2 linked regions of the Homo sapiens genome follow. The protein of the gene in region 2 purifies or fractionates together with the protein of the main gene of each other region. This does not show direct contact. Each region holds a gene or a part of one and is shown on either strand. Other genes may lie near its edges.

The links. Proteins that work in one complex are often made in the same cells at the same time.
Region 1: the proteins of MUC20 (region 2) and ZNG1A purify together in Homo sapiens (affinity purification with mass spectrometry; 2 studies listed by BioGRID and IntAct, with this or other methods). This does not show direct contact.

What each region holds. Positions count from the first base shown.
Region 1 is NC_000009.12:151,491-155,144, forward strand, and holds part of ZNG1A (zinc-regulated GTPase metalloprotein activator 1A), read right to left. Parts: intron 3,306-3,654; coding exon 3,219-3,305; intron 589-3,218; coding exon 544-588; intron 1-543. UniProt on the Homo sapiens protein: Zinc chaperone that directly transfers zinc cofactor to target metalloproteins, thereby activating them.
Region 2 is NC_000003.12:195,723,955-195,727,608, reverse strand, and holds part of MUC20 (mucin-20 isoform a precursor), read right to left. Parts: intron 2,930-3,654; coding exon 1,037-2,929; intron 1-1,036. UniProt on the Homo sapiens protein: May regulate MET signaling cascade. Seems to decrease hepatocyte growth factor (HGF)-induced transient MAPK activation. Blocks GRB2 recruitment to MET thus suppressing the GRB2-RAS pathway. Inhibits HGF-induced proliferation of MMP1 and MMP9 expression.

The DNA.
Region 1 (3,654 bases), on a different chromosome or scaffold from region 2:
AATTTTCTGAAATTAAGATAACATTCAATGGAAAACAGAATTTAATCTACAGAAATACACTTCACAGATGTTTTAGGAACAGAACCTAGAGAAAATGAAAGTCAAAATTTAATAAAAGAATTTGTCAGGAACTTCAAGGTAAAGACTCCATGTATTTTTTGGCAACTATAAAACACTAAGAAGGCTTTTTAAATATTAAAAAGCCATTTAAACACTTCAAATTAAGATTCCTCAATATACTTCAGATTTCTGTACTGAGTTACCCTCTCGAGTGTTTGGAAGTCTTTTCTTCCTCATTAAGCAAACACTTACACAGTGTTATCATGGCTTTGTATTCTTAGTTTTGAAGACAGGCAAATGTACTAGCCAAATATGCCAAACTAACTTATTAAGAGCATTCCAAACAACATTTTGGATCCAATTCTTTTTAAATGCACTTAGATCTTTCTTATATTAGAATCAAGCATATTTGTCAATTATTTAATGTTTATTATTAATAACTAAAATGATTTGTTATTAATAGGAATAGCTTTTTTAAAGTACCTTGATCTTTGTGTTTCTAAGATTTGTCCTAGTCCATTTATGGATCTGAAATAAATAATAAATGAGGAAGACAAAGTTTAAAAGTAAAAATTAACTTTTTAAAAAAGTATACAAAGTATATTGTTTCTAAAACAGGAAATAAGCATACCCAAATACATCTGGAACCAGAAAAAAATTAAAAACAGAAAAACAAAACTTGCTTTAAAAAATAATTGTGATTTTCCTTCAAACAATAAATCACATATATTCCACTCATACATTAATAAAACATATATGCAAAAATTCGCACAACTGTCAGATTAAGGGCTACTTTGTGGTTAATAAAAAGACACTTCACTTTAGAAAAAATCATTCATAAATAGTCAGTTATCCTAGTGTTCTTAAAAATGAGTAGATACTCAAAATTTTTACGGTGGTCACTTTTTTCCTCAGGCATACATGGTAGAAATGGCTATATACACACTAAAAATAAAAACCTAGTTGCAAGTTGCTTTGCCCCCAGCCTGTCCTTAGTATTCACAGTAATTCTAAGTCACACATCCCAGGTTCCTTTATAGAATAACCTCGTCAGTTACCTAATTAGGCTCTCTACCCGTTATGCCTGTTCTCCCTCTTTTGATACTATAGAATATGGCTTCGTATGGCACCAAAAAGTACCTGTTAAATTCTTTTCAACACACTGTACACCTCATCTATTTATCTTTTCCATTGCCTATCATCAATCATCAATTCTCTATCATGAATTCAATTGTCTTTAGGGTTACTTACCCAAGATTCTTGCTACTTGTTCAAGTTTGTTCTCATGGGTAAGGCTTCCCACATATAATGATTCTGAGGCAAGTCTCTCCACTATTTTACAAAATTCTTAAATCTTCTTTTTTGAATACACTCTAGTCTGATGGCTAATTCCTCTCAAACATGTTTACCTTTTTTCACCTCCCCAAATATCATTCTGAGTCAGTCACAAGTCTGATATAAAGGGAGGGTAAAAGCCAAAAGGGTGTGTAATTTATCAAATTGCTTCTTCCAAATTCATTTCTAGTACTGTTAACAAGCTGGCTAATAGTCAATATTGTCAGTGTCAGAGATTTAGCTTAGGTCTCTATAAGGATATAAAAGTCAAGTAATAATTATCATTCCTTTTATGCCAAAAACATTTGCTAAATAGATTGTGTTCTTCTTAGCAATCACAATGGTGCACAAGATTTATGAAGAGAAACAAGATTAGAAGACCAGTGTCAAAAAATGTAAAAGCAATCTTCATTCATCACTTTCTCCTTTTCAAAATCAGCCATCTTTTTCTTTCTTCCCTTTTTTACTATACCTTGAACTTACTATGTAAGCTAAGAAAAAAATTACATAATAATAGCTAACAGAGCACTTACTATGTGTCAGCACTGTGCAAAGTTTACCAACATTGTCTCATGTAATACTCAAAGCAAACTTATGATAGGCATTATGCCTTTTACAGAGGAGGCTTTAAAAGGGTAAATAAGCTCCCTAAGAAGACAATGAGAAACAGACCAAGGATTAGAACCCAAGCAGATTCCAAGGTCTGTGATCTTCAACACTACGCAACAATACCTACCCTCCACGTGGAGACATTATATTTTTTTATAGTAAAGTTTAAGGACATTACTATTAAAATAAGATGAAATATGTGGAAAAAATATGAATTTCTTTCTTCCACAATCATTAATCATGGCAAATAATCTCCTAATGAGCCTTACCTTTATTGATTCAATTGATAATATATACTATATGAACTGAGATGACAGATTCAAAATCTAATGTCAGTAGAACTTATAAATACTAAGAATAGTAATTTTGAGCCATCACGCTCAAAGCATTGTACACATTAAAGATAACCAATACTAATAGCTACCGAATGTCTCTCTGTATAGGGCTTTTATTAGTTCAGGTCTTACAAAATAATTCAAAACAAAGCCCCTGAACTATAACCTCATTTGAAAAGCCCATCTTTGTTTTCAAAAGGAATGGGAGTCTCCAGAACAGTCAGCAAAATGACTGTTAGCACATATTTGAGCATCATTCATATTGTCCTGATTGTCCTATGCTGATCAGCCTTGGCTATGGACAAAGAAGATATTAAAGCAAGCTGGAAGACAAGGCATGGTTGACAGTTAAGGAAGATGAAGTCAACAAGAGTTCAGGGAAAACTGAGACCACTTGAGTCAGGGAAGACTTCACATAGGAAGGGGGGAGAGACAGAATAGGCTCTATAGAATAAATTAAAAAAAAAAAAAGCAGAACAAGAAAGAACTCAGGGATTGGCAGAGTGAGAATACATTACGAGTAAAGACAGGAACTGACAGGATGCATCCATGGGAAAGTGAATTAACCATCCTGGGTAAAGTTAGGGAAGACTGACATTAGGAAAGAGTCAAAGAGAAGACAGGAAAAGAAAGATGGAGTGCGAAGACCCTGAATATCAGTCTATTAACTGTGAACTATATTCTGCAAGCACTGGGGACTAATTTTATGTATTACCATTTATATAACAATTAGCCATCAACAATATATGTGATTCCCTAACGTTCTTGAAGCAGCTCAACCTTATACCTTAAGTTTCTACAGGGCAACAATCAGAGTAAAAAATATTCTGTGTATACAACATGGATCTGTAGGCACTTAACACACTTATCATTTCGTACCTAATTGTCGTTCTTAATTTCTTTACATCTTCTTCTGGAACCAGGTCTGTTTTATTAATGAGAATGGCATCTGCCAAAGCAACTTGTCTAAAATAGCAAACAGAGAAATGTTAAGAAACTTTAAATAATATACACGCATGCAGATTAATACATCAAAAGAGGAATGTTAACAAATCAAAAATAAATAAAAACGCCTCATGTAGATCAATATATCAGTTAAGAATTATCTAGTGCTCTATAGGAGTGACTCAGTTTACTCCTAATCCGCTAATTTTTCAATGTGGATGAATTGTGTTCATTACTATGCAAGTTCAGATTTCACATTACCCATTCGCAAAGTATTTACTAAGTTCTGTTACTTGCTACTCTTGTGCTACAAAGATAAGTCTCAAAAAGTTTACAATCAAAAGGATGATTTTAAACTCATAATTTTCTT
Region 2 (3,654 bases):
TTGTATTCCCACCTCCCCCAGAAAGGTGGTAACAAGCTGCGGATACACAGAGATGAGGCCCAAGGGCAGAGTGACAGGAAGTGGAGGTGGAGGCTACAGGCTGACCAGAAGCTGGACTGACCAAGCAGCCTCTGACAATGAACTTCTCCCCTGAGAAGTCCCTGTTGCCTCAGAGATGTAGCTTTAAACTCCCAAGCCTTCGCTGTATTTGCTTATTTTATCTTACCTTTTTTTTTTGAGACGGAGTTTCACTCCGTCTCAGCTCACTGTAACCTCCACCTCCCGGGTTCAAGTGATTCTCCTGCCTCAGTCTCCCAAGTAGCTGGGATTACAGGCGCCCACCACTGCGCCCAGCTAATTTTCATATTTTTAGTAGAGATGGGGTTTCACCATGTTGGTCAGCCTGGTCTCGAACTCCTGACCTCAGGTGATCCGCCGGCCTCTGCCTCCCAAAGTGCTGGGATTACAGGCATAAGCCACCGCTCCAGGCCTGTATTAATTTATTTTAAGTCACTATCTATGGCATAAATCCCAGGAAATGCATCCAGCAGGCCCCACTTTCATGGGGTCCCAGCCTGTCAGAGAGCAGCAGCTTGGGCCTGATGCCTGCCTGCTGCTCCTCTGTGTGGCTATGGCTGGAATAGAAGCTTCCAGAGCTGCTCAACAGTGCACTTCACAGAAGGTCAGAGCTGGACAGGACTTCAGTGCCCATTCCAACCCTCTCCAAATACAGGTGGAGAAACTGAGGCCCAGAGAGGGACAGGGACTTGCCCAAGGTCACTCGGGTTGTTACAGGCAGAGCCGAGACCGCAAACCATTTCTCCGGACTTCCATCCCCACCCCTTTCCATACACAACCCTCCATCTGCCTTTTCCTGATTTCGCCAAGAACCACTAGAAGATCACGAAGAGGCAACATCAGGAGCAGGCTCTGAGTAGGCTCCAGATCCTTCCCTCCTCTCCACTCCTCAAGTGCGGAGACGTCCTGGAAACTCCGCATCCCAAATCCCCGAAGATCACCAGCAGGAGCCACTTACCTGCACTCACGTCTGTGGTCGGCCTCGTCCGGGCAGTCGTGGGCGTGGCTGTTGGGGGCTTCATCGTGGTCTTCGCTGAGGTTGTGATCTTGGCTAAGGTGCTGTTCGTCCCTCGGCTGCTGTTGGTTGTAGTCGGAGGGACAGAAGGAAGAGGGTCCCTGCTGGTGGGGAAGGGCCCCTTGGTTGCGATGTCCATGGTCGGTGTCTCTGAAGGGGTGAAGTTCTTGAGGGCGGCTTCCGAGGGGCTGTAGGAGGAAGCAGAGCTCCCAGCAAAGGAAGTTGTTTTGCCCACTGCTGACCCAGCCTCTATGGAGACCGGAGCTGCTCCTGAGACTTTGACGTAACTTGGTGTCTCAACAGAGAGGGCTGAGGTTTCTTCAAGGGGATTCCTGCTAACTGTGACCAGAGCTCCACTGAGGGTCGTGGCCCCGGGTGCTGTCACTTCTCTTTCTGTGGCGCTGTTAGTGGGGAGTGGGGTCCCAACCGTGGCATCAGGTGCAGCTGACTCTGTGGTGCCGGCTGTGGACAGGGTCTCGGCAGAGGCTGTGACCTCAGTGATGTGTGGTTTTGCTTCAGTGGAGTCAGGCAGAGCTGGTGGATCGGAGGTGGACGAGGCCTTCACCCCTTCCGTGGGGATGAGATCTGTGTCTGAGGCCCCAGGGATGCTGGAAGTCGTTGTTTCTATTTCTGTGATGCTGCAATTAATAACCTCGATGTTTGTGACAGTCACCAGGGCTTCAGCGAGGAGAGTGACGTCAGATCCCGGGGACCATGAGGGGGTGATGACTGGATGGGGGCCGTCGGAAGAGGCGCTGCTCTCTGAGGCCCGTGACGGGGTGATGACTGGATGGGGGCCGTCGGAAGAGGCGCTGCTCTCTGAGGCCCGTGACGGGGTGATGACTGGATGGAGGCCGTCGGAAGAGGCGCTGCTCTCTGAGGCCCGTGACGGGGTGATGACTGGATGGGGGCCGTCGGAAGAGGCGCTGCTCTCTGAGGCCCGTGACGGGGTGATGACTGGATGGGGGCCGTCGGAAGAGGCGCTGCTCTCTGAGGCCCGTGACGGGGTGATGACTGGATGGGGGCCGTCGGAAGAGGCGCTGCTCTCTGAGGCCCGTGACGGGGTGATGACTGGATGGGGGCCGTCGGAAGAGGCGCTGCTCTCTGAGGCCCGTGACGGGGTGATGACTGGATGGGGGCCGTCGGAAGAGGCGCTGCTCTCTGAGGCCCGTGACGGGGTGATGACTGGATGGGGGCCGTCGGAAGAGGCGCTGCTCTCTGAGGCCCGTGACGGGGTGATGACTGGATGGGGGCCGTCGGAAGAGGCGCTGCTCTCTGAGGCCCGTGACGGGGTGATGACTGGATGGGGGCCGTCGGAAGAGGCGCTGCTCTCTGAGGCCCGTGACGGGGTGATGACTGGATGGGGGCTGTCGGAAGAGGCGCTGCTCTCTGAGGACAGGCCCTTAGCTTCTGTGGAGGTGTGAGCCAATGTCAATATGTCCATTGTGAGTGTCTTTGCCTCTTCAGAGCTGTCATCGGTGCAAAGGGTGTCAAAGATGGCTTCCCTGGGATCACTGCCTGTGATGGTCTGAACTGTGGTCATTCCAGCTCCCTCGGGGCTGCCACTGGCGGCTGATGTCTCCACGGAGGTGGCGATCAGCACCATGAAGTTGGGAGATGTTTTTGTGAAACTCCTGGTCTCTCTTGCAGGGGAAATTCTCTTGGCTCCCCTGGTCTCTGCTTCTGGAATGGGGCCGGCTGGGGTTGAGGCCCTAGAAGAGGTCTCAGCGCTCAGCGTTTGAGTTTCCAGAGCGGCGTGGCCCGGTGCTAGAGTCATAGCGGGCACTTCTGTGTCGTCCGTTGTCATCGCAGTGTCTGCTCTGCGGGTGCTGGGGCCTGTGTTGGTTAAGACTGACTTGGTGAGCCTGGGTTCCAGTGGACTTCACACAAGCTATTGCGTTTACACCCTGGGCACTTCTGGGAGGAGGGTGGGGCAGGGGAGTGCCGTTACCTCATTTTTCATCTACATAAGCGAACAAGAAGGAGGCAGTCCTGGGAAGCCCAGGCCTGTGTGGCAGCCATGGAGCTGGGGTTGCCATGACTGGTGTCCTCTGAAACCCTGACAACTCACTTGGGGCCAGCAAGCCCCAGGATCTGCTGGCTATCGGCCTGCGTCTTTAAGAGGGGATGTGTGGGGCCAGCGTCCACCTTCCAGGGTGAGCCAAGAAGGCAGACCAGCGTCCAGGACTCGCAGAGCTTTCTGAACCTCTGTCCCCTTCCCCGGATACTTTTCTCATCCAACACATAGTTCCCCATGGAAGTAAAAACCCTTAAAAGACGAGAAAGGCCTATGATTGTGCCTTTCGGGGTAGCTGGGTGGATTGAGGCGGGGGAACCTCCAGAGACAGGGTGGGCAGTGCTGCTGCCAAAGCGAGGGAGCCGGCAGAGTCCTTGGGGCTCCAGCAAGGGAAAGACGGCACCCCCCACCCTGCCGAGGCCCCTCCTGAATGAGGGCTGAGAACTGCAGGGTTGGAGCCTGGGAACCATGGAAACCGTGGCCAGGCATTTTCCACAGGACACCGGGAGACCCTGAGGCAACACCTAGCTTTTCAGAGAGCGGC